2 linked regions of the Homo sapiens genome follow. The protein of the gene in region 2 purifies or fractionates together with the protein of the main gene of each other region. This does not show direct contact. Each region holds a gene or a part of one and is shown on either strand. Other genes may lie near its edges.

What was found. Proteins that work in one complex are often made in the same cells at the same time.
Region 1: the proteins of DOCK3 (region 2) and ELMO2 purify together in Homo sapiens (affinity purification with mass spectrometry; 2 studies listed by BioGRID and IntAct, with this or other methods). This does not show direct contact.

The regions. Positions count from the first base shown.
Region 1 is NC_000020.11:46,396,616-46,403,639, reverse strand, and holds part of ELMO2 (engulfment and cell motility protein 2), read left to right. Parts: intron 1-4,868; 5' UTR 4,869-4,943; intron 4,944-5,620; exon of another isoform or gene 5,621-7,024. UniProt on the Homo sapiens protein: Involved in cytoskeletal rearrangements required for phagocytosis of apoptotic cells and cell motility. Acts in association with DOCK1 and CRK. Was initially proposed to be required in complex with DOCK1 to activate Rac Rho small GTPases.
Region 2 is NC_000003.12:51,356,919-51,363,942, reverse strand, and holds part of DOCK3 (dedicator of cytokinesis protein 3), read right to left. Parts: intron 6,982-7,024; coding exon 6,802-6,981; intron 6,186-6,801; coding exon 6,102-6,185; intron 5,983-6,101; coding exon 5,866-5,982; intron 3,433-5,865; coding exon 3,311-3,432; intron 2,085-3,310; coding exon 1,946-2,084; intron 1,417-1,945; coding exon 1,269-1,416; intron 1-1,268. UniProt on the Homo sapiens protein: Potential guanine nucleotide exchange factor (GEF). GEF proteins activate some small GTPases by exchanging bound GDP for free GTP.

The DNA.
Region 1 (7,024 bases), on a different chromosome or scaffold from region 2:
GTATGCAAGGCATCATGAGGTGTAATGAAGAGCCAGAATCAGTATGGGCTGGAGGCTGCAAAGTGGCTGTCTTGGCCAAGCTGCATGATGTGTTTTTAAAAATGTTGGATTTAAACTCCTCTAGGCAAGGTGGTACTTTGCAGTGTTACAGACCCTACATGGAGGCTGCTTGTTTTATTTACTTACCTGCTTGGCTGCCCAAGACATTTGAATTTATAACCCTATTAGGCATGCTATGCTGGTTTCATGTGAGTCACTAGAAAATATTTGTTGAGCACTTCTTATTTGCCAGGCATTGTATTAGCTGCTGCTTTGGAACTGATCATAACATTTTCCAAAGTTCTTCCACTGGGAAATAGTAATAATAATAGTGGAACACCAACAAATGCTTTGCCTTTTGTATTGACTTTCCTCCCGGACTGCCTTCACATATGCTCTCTTATTTTGTCAACAATACACAACATACCTGCCTAGCAGGTAGGGCTTACTGTGTTGGGGAAACGTGGTTTCAGAGCTTTTGCAGTTTCTTCAGGTTCACACGGTTAGAATTCTGCTATTATGCTTAGTGCTTTATTATCCCACTTGATGCTCACAACAGCTTTACGGGGTAGAGTTGATGCTAATCCCCATTTTACAGGTAAGAAAATCGTTAGTGCTAAGATCCAAGTTCAGGCCTTTCCCACTCCAGAACACAGCTCCTAACTTGTTAAGCTACACTTCCTCACTAGAAGGCCAAAGTTGGAAGAAAGCTCAAAAACATCTAGTCCAGCCCCCGATGTAGATCAGGACCTGAGGTCCAGAAAGGCTTGTGTTTGTGGCAAAGCTGTGCTGCAGGAGGAGGACTAAACCAGAAGTGGGGGCCTAGGCCTTCTTTTGTCCCTAACTGGTGGCATGGCCTTGCCAGCTTCTCTGGACTTCAGTTCCCTTATTTATGTAATGAAAGGGCTTGGCCTGATTTTACACTGAGAACAATGCTGTGCTGTTATGGTCAGTATTGAAGGAGTTCACAGCCCGAGATTTTAGTTGTAACCCAGGACTCTTCCCAGCACACCACACTCCCTCCCTACCCAAGCTCCATCTCCTTGTGCAATCACGGTTTTCTAAAGTTTAATTCTGAAGTTCATCTGTATTTTCCATCTCAGTTTCTGTTTCCTCTCATTTCCAAAAACTGAGGTAAGTGGTTTGTAAACACTGACTTTTTGTAAATTCATCTCTTCAGTCATTGTGGTTAGGGATTTGGAAAGTTCTAGGCAATTAATAATCCTCAGTCAGTAGTGTTTTCACTCTCTTCTGAAGGCATTTAGGTCTGGAGGCACCCTGGAGGGAATTTTCCTGTGGAATTCTGTGGACACAGCTATGTGGCAGGCAGTGTGCTGCAAACTGGGGGAAGAGTAGATGGGGGAATAGACTTAGGCTTCATGAGTCCTTGCCCTCAGGTTGTCAACTCTCCTGGAGCTGTGGGTCAACCCTGAGCATCTGAGAGTTTATAAATGACCTGGGGTGTGTGTTGATGGTGCACAACCAGAGTTGAGAACCACTGTTTCTCGGACCTTATCTGATCTAGAGCCTATGTCCCAGACTTGAACATGCACTTGAACCACCTCAGGATCTTGTTTGAAGGCAGATTCTGATTGGGTGGGTCTGGGCTCCCAGGGATACTGCCGCTGCTGGTATGCACATCACACCTATCGTAGCCAGGGAAGAGACTGCACATAGAGAATTATAAATCAGTAGGATCAGGAAGGTATGTACAGAAGACTGGGATCACAGATGAGGCTGCAATTAATTTTCCCTGAGGTGAGAGGATTAGGAAAGCCACATAGAAGAGTGATTATCTTAGCTGGGCCTTGAAGGTTGAGTTGAAGTTTGCCAGCTGGACAAGGAAGAGGAAATAATAGCACAAGCAAACATACAGACTCAGAAGAGCATGGTTTTTCAGGGAACAGGTGGTCTGGTGAGAACATGGCATCTGCAAAAGCGAATCTGAAAGCCAGTTCCACCACAGAGCCACGGTGGAACTGGAGTAAGTTGAATGCTCTGCTAAGGAGCTTACTTAAGCACTATTCTTTAAGTATAGGAACACTACAGAAGGTGTCTGTGCAGGATAAGAGAAGACCCAGGCCATTCTTACAGCAGGAATCAAGATGAAGAAACCCAAATAGTTCCCCTGCCCCCACACCCCTTCTCACCACACCTTTGCCTCTATGTAAGTTTGTGGCTTTTTACCATGTGTGAATGAGTCCTGTGTCTAACATACTTCAACAAAAAGGGGAAACCTCAGCTGCTGTTGGTATGGTGGTCCTTCCCAGGGCTTCCAGCAGTAAACATAAGAACCTTAATCTCTGCCAGTCAAATCCTCCCTTTTCTGTACCTCAGAGTCTGATCGTCATTCAGTGGACTGAACTAAGGGAAGTTGAATCACTTCTCAGATGAGAAGATTTCAGAGGGGGAAGCCTTTATAGAGATTGTGTTCTCGATTAGAAAGGGCGTGACTCCAACTTGCCTTCTTGATGAGGTTGCATTCTGTTGCAGGAAACATAAACCAAACTTACCCATGCCTCCTTCACCAAATCAAAAGCCAAATAACTGAACAAAAAGTACACATCCGTTCTTATCCTGAAAGGAATAGGGGGAAGGAGGGGAGCTGGAAACCTGGCATTCTTCATCCCAAATTCCTTACTAATAGGAGGAGATCATCTTTCACTTCATTCCTTAAGATTCGGTTTCCAATCCTGCTCTCAGAATCCAGCTCCGTGAAGCAGCAGTCACTGCATGGGTGATTGATAAAGCTCCATGGGGCTTCTGTAACAGTGCTGATTTTATAAGCACACCTTCTAGAAGCCACTTAGAGACTGCTCCATTGGAGACACTAATGTTCCTATTTTTCTCTACTTTTCCCAGCTCTGTGTTTGAAAAACTGGCCTTTCATTCTTATGACTTATAGTAAAATTGTCATCAGGTCAGTGTGTGCCTGTCTCCTGTTTTGTAGCATTTTGAGTTTTCCAAATCATCCTTATATCTGTAATGCTTAAAGAGGAGTGGAAGGTAGAAGGGTGGGGAGTTGTTTAATCCGGAAGGGGCCCTCTGGGCCTGGATATGGAACTACAGCTCCCTTATGCTGGTGGTTTGCAATTGAGCTACAGTACTGCTGAGTGGCGGAGCAAGAGGCTATTTATAACCCTGAGAATTTTGCAATGTTACTGAATTCCTTTGACCTAATTTCTACTTCCTTTCTAGAATGAAAATGAAGGGAGTAAGCAAACACGTGCTGGAAGGGTTCCCTATAAGGAGATCCTTTATCCTGGGAATATTATCTGGAGAACAGAATTATTTCTAGTCTCCTATCTCCTGATGTTTCTTTTCGATAGGGAGAAAAGCAGAGGGAGGTTTTCCTCTTTCTTTCAACTAGAGTTAGGGGTGCTAACCCTGATTTTTCAGTAAGACTTATTCTAATGTTTGATATGAAAACAACAGTTTTTTATTTTATTTTTATTTTTTAATAGAGACAGGATCTCACTTTGTCACCCAGGCTAGAGTTCAGTGACATGATCATAGTTCACTGCAGCCTCGAACTCCTGGGCTCAAGCAACTCTCCTGCCTCAGCCTCCTGAGTAGCTAGGGACTACAGGCACACGCCACCATGCCCAGCTAATTTTTATTTTTTGTAGAGAAATGTCTCGAACTCCTGGCCTGAAGTGATCCTCCTGCCTTGACCTCCCAAAGCATTGGGATTACAGGTGTGAGCCACTGCGCCCAGCCAAAACAAACTGTTAAACAATGGAAATACTGTGTAGTTAGAGGGTATTGGGACGCAGAGGGAACACCAGACAGCCTGCACAGTTCATGCCTGTCCCTGTCTGTTTGGAGCCAGCCTGGTTCACAGGAGTGGAAGAAATCAGAGCCATTGGGTTTAAGCAGACACAGGTGCTTACTGAGCCTTCACTGGACACCAAGTGCTGTGCTAGGTTATGAGACTGCAGAGTTATACCTGTTCTGGAGGAGGAGCTAGTGGAGATGTGTAAATATGTAACTGTAATAGAGTATGACAAAATCGTACTCATTAACGGAAGTATGAACAGGATGCTGTGAGAACACAGAGGCCCCTGTCCTATTTACTTTTGCCAGGGAAAGTAGAGAAAGCTAAGACTAGTACAAGGAGGAGGTAACATCCGAACTAGGCTCTGATGCTTGAATAGGAGCTCTTCTGACAGTCAGTAGGAGGAAGAGAATGTGCAAAGGTACAGAAGAATTGAAAGAACATGGCCTGCCTTATAGAAATAGCCCGTAGTCCAGGATGGCTAGATTGTAAAGGACCAAATAGCACACGAGGGAGTGTGGCCCACCTGTAGACAGTGGAGAGCTGTCTTCTGTTACAATGGTGAGTTCTTGCTGTGAAGGTTTCTTAGCCTCAGTGTGCTTTGGTTTCAGATACACAAACCAGAAATCTCCACAAAGCACCTGCTGCGGGTCAGGTGCAGAGCCACCTGCTTTCTCATGGCTTTCCAGCAACACCAGACAACCTGGTATCAAATTCTGGCTGTGCCACTTGCTAGCTATGTGACACTGAGCCTTCTACTTAACTCCTCTGTGCCTCCATTTTCTTATCTCTAAGGTGGGGATAATAACATACCACACAGCATTGCTGTGTGGATTAAATGAATTAATATATGTAAAGCCCTTAAAATAGTGCCTTAGCATTATGTAATTGCTAGCTAATGTCATCATCTAAGGAAGTATTATATAGAGCGATGAGAACTCGCTTTGGAGTCCTAAGACCTAGGCTTGAGACCCAGTTCTGATGTGTTGGGTTGATTTAGTTTTATTTCTTTTCCCTCCCTTCATTTTTTTTCTTTCCTTCCTTCTTTTAGGAGGGAGGTGTAGAAAGAGGTACATGGAGAACAAGTTTGTCAATCCGTCTGAACTTCAGTTGCCTTACCTGTAAGGTAGGAATGTTTTTCAGAGTTCTTATGAGCATCAACTATAATAATGATATAGAAGTGAGCAATCAACTATAAAGAGGCTACCTGGGCTGGGCACAGTGGCTCACGCCTGTAATCCCAGCACTTTGAGAGGCCGAGGCAGATGGATCACCTGAGGTCAGGAGTTCAAGACCAGCCTGGCCAACATGGTGAAACCCCGTCTCTACTAAAAATACAAAAATTAGCTGGGCGTGGTGGTGAGTATCTGTAATTCCAGCTACTCAGGAAGCTGAGGCAGGAGAATCGCTTGAACCCAGGAGACAGAGGTTGAAGTGAGCTGAAATCATGCCATTGCACTTCAGCCTAGGCGACAAGAGCAAGACTCCATCTTTTAAAAAAAATTTAAAAAAATAAAAATAAAGAGGCTACCTGTACGTTACTACTAGATATATGATTACTATGAAGTTACCATATAACCGATCTGTTTCAAACAAATCAGACTTATCTAGTGGGTAAGAGCAAACCCATGGGTTTTGCTCTCATTAATTCAGCCATTGTTAATTAAGTGCTTACCCAGTACCATCATCATATGCTAGTGATGCTGCTGTCTGCTCAGACCTCCGTTTTAGAGTTCCTGCAGAGCTTGGGGGCAGCTGTGGTCTTAGGCGTATTAGTTGCAATGAGTAGAAACATAGACTAGCTTAATTTATAGGAGTTTTATTGGCAGGATACAGTGGACTTTCAGGTACCCCGAGCATAGGAAGTAATAGCCACATAATCTGGAAAGTTAGCAGGTAATGGCTTTTCCATCTCTTTCTGATTTCTGGCCTCAGTTCATTTAGATATTTATGGATTCCTCCTGCAGAATCACTTCCTCTGAAAGGCTCTTGGTTTTTTATTCTCCATATCTTTGGCTCGTACGGATCTTTGGCTTGCCATGGTATTCGCTCTGAAGCTTACTATGATCTTACTTCTCCAGGGTCATTATCACCCAGTTCCCTTAGTCTGTGTCTTTTATTTGTTTGTATGTATGTATGTGTGTATTTATTTATGATGGAGTCTCATTCCGTCGCCCAGGCTGGAGCGTAATGGTGCAATCTGTGCTCACTGAAACCTCCGCCTCCTGGGTTCAAGCTGTCCTCCCTGCCTCAGTCTCCCGAGTAGTTGGGATTACAGGCGCCCACCATCATGCCTGGCTACTTTTTGTATTTTTACTAGAGACGGGGTTTTGCCATGTTGGCCAGGGTGGTCTCAAACTCCTGACCTCAGGCGATCCACCCACCTTGGCCTCCCAAAGTGCTGCGATTATAGACATGAGCCACCACGCCCAGCCAGTCTCTGTCTTTTAAATTCAAGAGAAAGAACTGGAATAGTTCAGCTAAAGTTGGGTATTCACTTTAGTCCCATCAGCTATGGCAGGGTTGTGGAGAGTGTCATTCAGTTCAGAGAGGCTGCCTGGGCTTTGTGGGAAGGACAGAGTCACTGAGAATGGGGGCTTATTAATATCTTTCAAATAGTTTGGTGGTTGCAAATCTCCATGCTTTAAAATGTATACGAATTTTTGAACAGCCGAGAATCATTCAGGGCTAACTTTAATAAAGAGAGAGTCAATCTAGGATATGTCATATGGGGTCAAGAGAAAATAATAGCTATAACCTAATGAGCTTTAGCTTAATCTCCAAAGACGGCGTTCAGAAAGGAGTTAAAAATCATGGGGTTTGTTTCTTAGCAGCACCATCGAAATTAAGGAAGGGTGTAACTTCATTTGGTAAGGACTTTAAAATGGGCATCCTCACTTGGATTTTTTAAATTCCACTTAAGAATCATGGACTTTTAGACTTAGAAGGCACCTGAGACATGCTTTAGTTCTACACTCACATCTTTCAATAGAAGAAAACTGAGATTTGGTTAAAGGGCCATGTATACATTGTGAAAGACCTAGGATTGGGTCCTGAGGCCTTTGGTTCTAAATCCAGTCACTTGTTTCAGCAGGGACAATTATCCCAGCCCAGTGTTCTTTCTGTTGTACCTTCTGTGCCTGCTTATTTTAAAAATAAGAAGAAGCCAAACTAAACAAATGATCTAAAAAGTCATATCGTATAGTT
Region 2 (7,024 bases):
TTACTGCGGCACTATTCACAATAGCAAAGACTTGGAACCAACCCAAGTGTCCATCAATGACAGACTGGATTAAGAAAATGTGGCACATATACACCATGGAATACTATGCTGCCATAAAAAAGGATGAGTTCATGTCCTTTGTAGGGATATGGATGAAGCTGGAATCCATCATTCTGAGCAAACTATTGCAAGGACAGAAAACCAAACACTGCATGTTCTCACTCATAGGTGAGAACTGAACAATGAGAACACTTGGACACAGGGTGGGGAACATCACACACTGGGGCCTGTTGTCAGGTGGGGGAAGTGGGGAGGGATAGCATTAGGAGATATACCTAATGTAAATGACGAGTTAACGGGTGCAGCACACCAACATGGCACATGTATACATAGTAACAAACCTGCACGTTGTGCACATGTACCATAGAACTTAAAGTATAATAAAATAAATAAATAAATTTGTGATATTTTTCTTTGGTTTCATAATAATGAGAAGAACAAAGAGACTCCCTCCTTCTGAAGCCTGGAAGCAAGAGCAAGTGACTGGCTGGCAAGCTCAGACCACTGTCACTACCCTGCAAAGCCAACCCTGGGAAGCACTAGATCCTATGTACCACAGCTAATTTCCATTCCACTGCAAATGTTTCTGTCTACAAGGACAGAATCAACTTTCACTTGGGAACTAGGATTAGAACGTGAAAAAGATGCGAAGATGCTGCCTCTCAAAGAACAATATTCATTCAACTGAACAAGAAATCAACTAATAATTGGCAAAGTAAATAGGTTTTTACAGAGCCATCTCTCCTGAGAAAGCCTTTCCCAACTGAAGAAAAATTTTTTGGTTGCTGTTATTGTTTTAGAATAACATTTTCCAGGGTTAATTTTAGTCTCCCGATTTACTTTTCATACTTTGTCATCATGCCTGATTCCTCAAGACAAAAGACTCACTTTTGCCTAGACTTTGATCTTTGTTCTAGCAAAACTTTCAATGGGAAAGAAGTGAGCTTTCTTCTAAGCTGTGTGTCCTGTGACTGAGGTAGAAATGCAATGGCGGCACAGCGGCAGCCACTGCTCAGAGCGGAGTCTGAAGCCAGCCAGGGAAGAGGCCTGGAGGCAGGAACTCTCGAGTCCTTAGTGGTAAAAGCACAAATGAGTATTCTCTAAGTCACAGGGCTGCTCAAAGACACAGCCACAGATGAGAGGAAGCCGAGTGGCGTTGATGAAGACCTCTCTTCTCCATTCTGCAAGTAGCACCCTGCCATCCTTACCTCGGGCACTGGAAGGGGCAGAGGTAATCATCTGGGATGGTGCTGAGTGAGTGGAACTCAGGCTGGAGGAAGAAGGGCTTGCCTGGGACGAGGACAGAACAGAGACGTTGGTGACTGAGCCTTGGTACCTGGGGTTGGGATACGCGAGCTGCAAAGGGAGAAAAATCAGCAGGATAGAGGTCTGAATGGCCAGGACTTTAGGGCTGGCACAGAGTTTGCTTTTTCATGCCCTGAGGTGTTCTGCCCCAGTGCCTTATGCTATCCCCTGAGCCCTGATGGAGGCCAGGCTAATGGCTGGGCAACTAGGGGCCACCCACACCACCCATATGGAGCGAAGTTGTTGGGCTGGCCATACTACGGTGACCATGGAGGAAGCAGGGCTAAGCCAACAGGAATGCCAGGCAAGGGGGCAATCTGGCAGAGGATCTTTCCCGTGGGATCTCCTAAAGCAACCAGGACTGAAGCTGGATTTTCTTCTTGGGAAATAAGGCCTGGGAACCGAGACTTAGGATGGTGTGTGGAGGAACGGCAGCTTTCTAGCTCTGGTGAGGGGTGTTCTGAATTCAGGAGCTAGAGAATTAGGCAGGGTTGCCAAGCCCTCAGACTAGACATTGCAACAGCAAGGTGAGTTCTGTAGGCATGGTGCCCTGGCCCACTCTCCGTGGACAGCTCTGTACCTGCATGTGGTGGTACAGGTCCTCAGGAGCATCACCCATGGAGCCGTCACCCAGCATCACCATGTTTCCTGCTTCACTAGACGCATGTGAGGAGAGAGAGGATGATGAATGGCGGCCTGTGCCCATCAAGTTCATGGGGCTGTGAGCAAGAGTGGGAAATAGGGAGGAGTCAGGCCCATGGCAGGTGGCAGGGGGACAGTAGAGCGGAATGTGTGGAATAGTCATCCCTGGTTTCAGCTACCACCGGTTTGGAGGGTTCCATAGTCAATGCTCATACCCATCTGAGGCCTGGAGCAGTCCTGAGCTGTACCCTGCTACTCAGGAGCCCTTGGTCTGGGAGAGACAATGGTGTGGTACACTGGACAAGCCTCTACCTACAGCTACATGGCTTATGGCCACTCAGTTGCATGACATTAGCAGTTTCTCAGGAGGAATAAGAGATATGCCAAATCAGGTCAAAGACCTCAGGTTCCCCTTTCTATGGGGTATTAGTCTGGGTCAGTGCCCACCCCCCAACCCCCCCACACCATGATGGGATCTGCTTCTTGGTCAGAGGCTTCTTCCTAGTGTGGGAAGCTACCAAAATAGCCGGCTGTGAACTATCTGCAGGCCTCCTTCCACATCTGTGGCCAAAAGGCTTGTCAATAGCTCTCCTCTAGCAATACCAGGAAAGCTTCTCATTCATTTGTCCCTTATTTACTAAGTGCCCACTCTGTGCTGAGCTGCTGCTCACACTGGAAAACAAGCCTAAGTGAGGGGCTCCTCTCACTAGTCTCCTCCTCCAACTTGGCCTTCCTGGCCTAGAGGCTTTCAGTATTCTCAGTTGAGCCCAGGCAAACCAGTCTTTGATGTTCACATCACTATGCTGTTTCTTCCTTAAAACTGACTTGGTGATCCTCATTCTCCTTGGGATCAAGTCCAAAGGCCTGCATGAACAAGGCCCACTCAGAGCTGATCCTATCCCCTTTCCGTGCCCTGGAATCCGGCACTCCAGCCACTTGGCTCTACTCAGAGTGCTGACCAGGCTGGCTTGTTCATATCTTGAGGCTTCTGCATGTGTCAGTCGATTTTCCTAGATCTTGCCCTATCACCCTCCTAACCCCTAGCAAACATCTACTTATCCTTCAAGACTTACCCCAAATGCCCCCTCCTCCATGTTCCCACAGTATCATGTATACACTTCTCTTACCCAGGATAGTGACTGACTGAATGCAGGGTGTGGGTCCTATGGCAGGAGCCACATAAGTGTTTGCTGTGTGCATGGGTAAGAGGGAATATGAGTATACATGAGGACTCTTTCCTCTGACCCTTGACAATTTAGACTCACCTCTCCAGAGGGAACCCTCCCCAGCCCTAAGGCCATACCTGTGCCGGTGGGTCATCTTGATGCTCTCCGGACTCATGGGGCTATGGGATGCCAGAACATTTCCCCGTGGGGTGCTGGTGCCTGAACATGCAGGACTTAGCTTATCCAAACCTGGAAACTCCTGTTGAGAAATGAATGCCCCTTCATAGAGAGTAAAGAATAAATAAGTAACTAAGGGATGTGAGGGAATAACTGACTGGTGATCAAAAATGTAAAAGAAACAAAAAAGAATCATATGGTTGGCTGAACCTGAACTGCTGACTTCCTTTGGGCAATGCCCTCTTCACGACTAAAACACCCTCCTAACTGCACTGGAACCTAGACCAAAGGCCGTGTGCGAGGCCCCAGGTTGACTCCACATTAAGAGAAGCACATCTGGAATAAACTGAAGCTGGTCTGAGCTCATAGGAGTGTGTTAACAGGTTTTCTCGCTACGGAATAAGTAGAACAAGATCTGGGAAGAAGGAGAGGAAGAGCTTATTATTAGTTGTCAATAGGTGGGCACCAATTACATAAGGATTGGTGTTGGGTTTTATTAGACTGCTAAATGGCCCAGCTCTTAGTGACCTGGGTTGTCTGTGACACAGTCTACGGGGAGACAGAACATAAAATCCTGATGTATGTAACTGAAAAATAGCACAGCTCTATTTTAGCTTAATTAATTCATATTAAGTATGTAGATTTCTGGGCAGACACTTCTGATCTCAAACCCTACTGGGTGACAGCATGTTTGTTTGTGTCCCTGTGTACAACTCAGAGGAAACAACTGTTAAGGTTTCCTCACGTCCTTCAAAAGCTGTAGTGAACAGGGGCCCTAAGTCCACTGGGGATATTTCTGAGCTTGGTGTGAAGAAGCACCGGGTTTTCCACCTGCTTCTTCCAAAGCATACAGAGGGCTAAAATGTATTTCTGTAGCTGGAGAAAGGCTATGTGTGCACACGGAAGAACGTGATGTATATAGGAAAGTGTTTTGTGCTTTTTGCTGCAACCCACATGGCAGAGAACCTCCTCACTGGCCAGGCTCCAGCCTGCTTGGGTCACCTGCTGTGATGGGGAAGTTTGCACACAGCAGAGACCAGTCAAACAGGCAGGAGACCCTGGAATGAGAGGTAGTGGAATGAATACCCACCAGACTCAGCGATACTGCCCAAGTTCTTAACTAAATGGACACTCCAATTTTAAGGCGGAGATGTAAAAGAGCTTCTCTGCATATTTCACCTTGAAATACCATGGGAGAATCCTAACAGAGGGAGAAATTTCAGGATCTCCAGGCTTTCCTCTGGAAAATGTGCCCCTACCTCTCAAACTACAACAAGCTTCTTTTTCTCTTTTCATGCTGTCCACACTTGTCCACACAGGCTGAGACCTGCACTGGGAGCCTGGAGGGACGGAGATGACCAGAACCTGCAGCATCCAAGAACACAGCAGGTCCGCCCCAAATGGGTCAGGCCCACTGAGTTTAAGTAGTGCAACCTCCCTCAGGGCTCCTGTGGCCATGGTTATCCCTAGAGGGGGAATTTTTTGCTCATGACAACCTCGTGCAGCATTGAACAGCTCTACTTCTTGTCTCCCTGCCACTTCTGTCCAGTGGTCCTGGGTGATGAGAAGAGAACTTGGCTTGGGTGCCAGGTAGCAGCAGGTAATTGGGCTCATATCCCTTAAGATCTGGGAGCCAGCCTGTTTAGCAGGAAGGGATCTTTAGAAAACATTTGGAGTCAGCCCCACAGTTGAAAATGAGGTTTGGATATGTGAATAGGGGGCTCTATCCTCAGCCAGTCAGCATTTCCTCTAAGACCCTGCCAAGGAATACTGGTCCTGGAATATAAGTCCTGTTTGTGTGTTTAAGTCCTTGGGCCAAACCCTACTGTGGAGGCTGAAGAGCTGGGCCAGAGTTAGGGAGACTTTCAGGAGCCTGGTCCAGCCCCAGGACCTGCTTGACTCCTTTAAGGACTGCTAGCATGAAAGTACTGCTCATCCTAGGCTATCTCAGATGTGAGCTTGGATCACGAGACATGATAGAGGAAGCTGGGAATAAGAGGGAGGGAGAGACAGAGGGAGAAAAGGGAGTTGGGAGGAAGAGTAAAAAGAGGGAAAAGAGAACGATTAGAGGGAGGAGAAAGAATGAAGAAGGACAGGGAGAGAGGAGGAGGAGGGAGATGGGGAGAGAAGGCTGGCTCAGGCCATGCCTATCTCTTTAGGTTCTTGGGATGAAAAACATCTCCAAAAAGATCCCTACATGTGGGCCATATATGTTAGCTCTCTTCCTTCACATATGAAAACCTGTCTACTAGCACAGTGCCCTGAAAAACGTTCCCTGCCCTTGAATCTGGCTCCTCCTTTGGGAGTGAGTGAGTGGGAGGATCCTCAGCATCCTTCCCCTGGATATAGCATCCATCCTTGCCCCCTGTCCCTCTGTAGGGAGGACAGCCTCTCTCCCCAACCCCGGCCCCTGCCCAGGCTCCCTCTCTCCTATTTTCCTTTGGTTTGTGGCGTAGGTCTGGAGGAAGTGACACCTGGTTCTACTGCAGCAGGGGCAGGACAGGGATCAACTTACATGGTAGAGACTGGCCCGCATCATCTGGAACTGATCAATTAGCTTCTTATGCAGAGGCCGCATTTCTGGGTGCACAAACTTCTCATGAACTGCTAGCCCAACTCCAAGGACATGAACCTATCAGAGTCACAAACAAGGCCACTCTGTGAACCATGAGTAGCCCCTGAGAACTGCTCATCTTGTAGTGCATGGCTTTTCTCACCTGGCTGCTGGTTCCCAAGCCCTCCAAGACATACCTGCTCCTGCATAAGCTCCTTGAGCTGGGTGATCTTCTCAGCATCTCCTGGGTGCTTGTTGATGTAATCTTTATCAAAGAAGGCCTGTGAAAGGAAAGGCCAAGTCAGGAAGACTCTTCCCAGGACTACTACTTAAGTGGGGCCCAGGAGACTTGAGTCCACTAATGCCACCTAAAAAGCAGCCAGGCTGTCTCCTCATAGGTACATACACCAGTCTGGCCTGTTTGAACTTCTGGCAATTAGAGGTGTGTTTTTTTGTCTGAGAAGGACTGAACGTGGCCAAGCCATCTAAGTCTGGATGCTGACCCCAGTCCCTCATGGAGCCTGGATGGCCTAGGTAGGGCAGGCAGGACTGGTGGACTGGGAGTAGGGGCTAGCCTCTTATCCAGCCTACAACTCACTTCTCCTGACGGGCTGGGCTCCAAGGCTCCTCTTGGAGGGCACTTAACATCCTCCCATAATCAGGATTACAGATTACCCATCTTAGAGTTCAGAGAATAAAAATGAAGAAAAGGCCCTACCAAACTGTGCCAAAGAAATAGGGAGTGATAGGGAGCTTAGGGCCTCATTCCAGGACCATGTCAAGAGAGGGCATGTAGGGAAGGCTACCTAAGGAGACTATAATCTTGAAAAGAGAAGCCTGTGAGCCGCCTTCCTGGCCAGGCTGGCTGCATGGGTTTGGCCTGTGGCCACAGCTTACCTCCTGATAGCGTGCAATGCCTCCATTGACAGCTGCATCAATGACACCATTCAGGCACATGCTTAGCAGGTTAATGTTGCCATGCACCTGCTTGTGTTGATACTGGCTGATCAGGGAGCGTAGCTCCTGGTTCTTATTCTCAACCACTTGGATGGCATTCTCCAGAGGGCTCACCTCCACCTAGGGGCACACAGCACACAGAGTCATCCCAGAAATGATGATA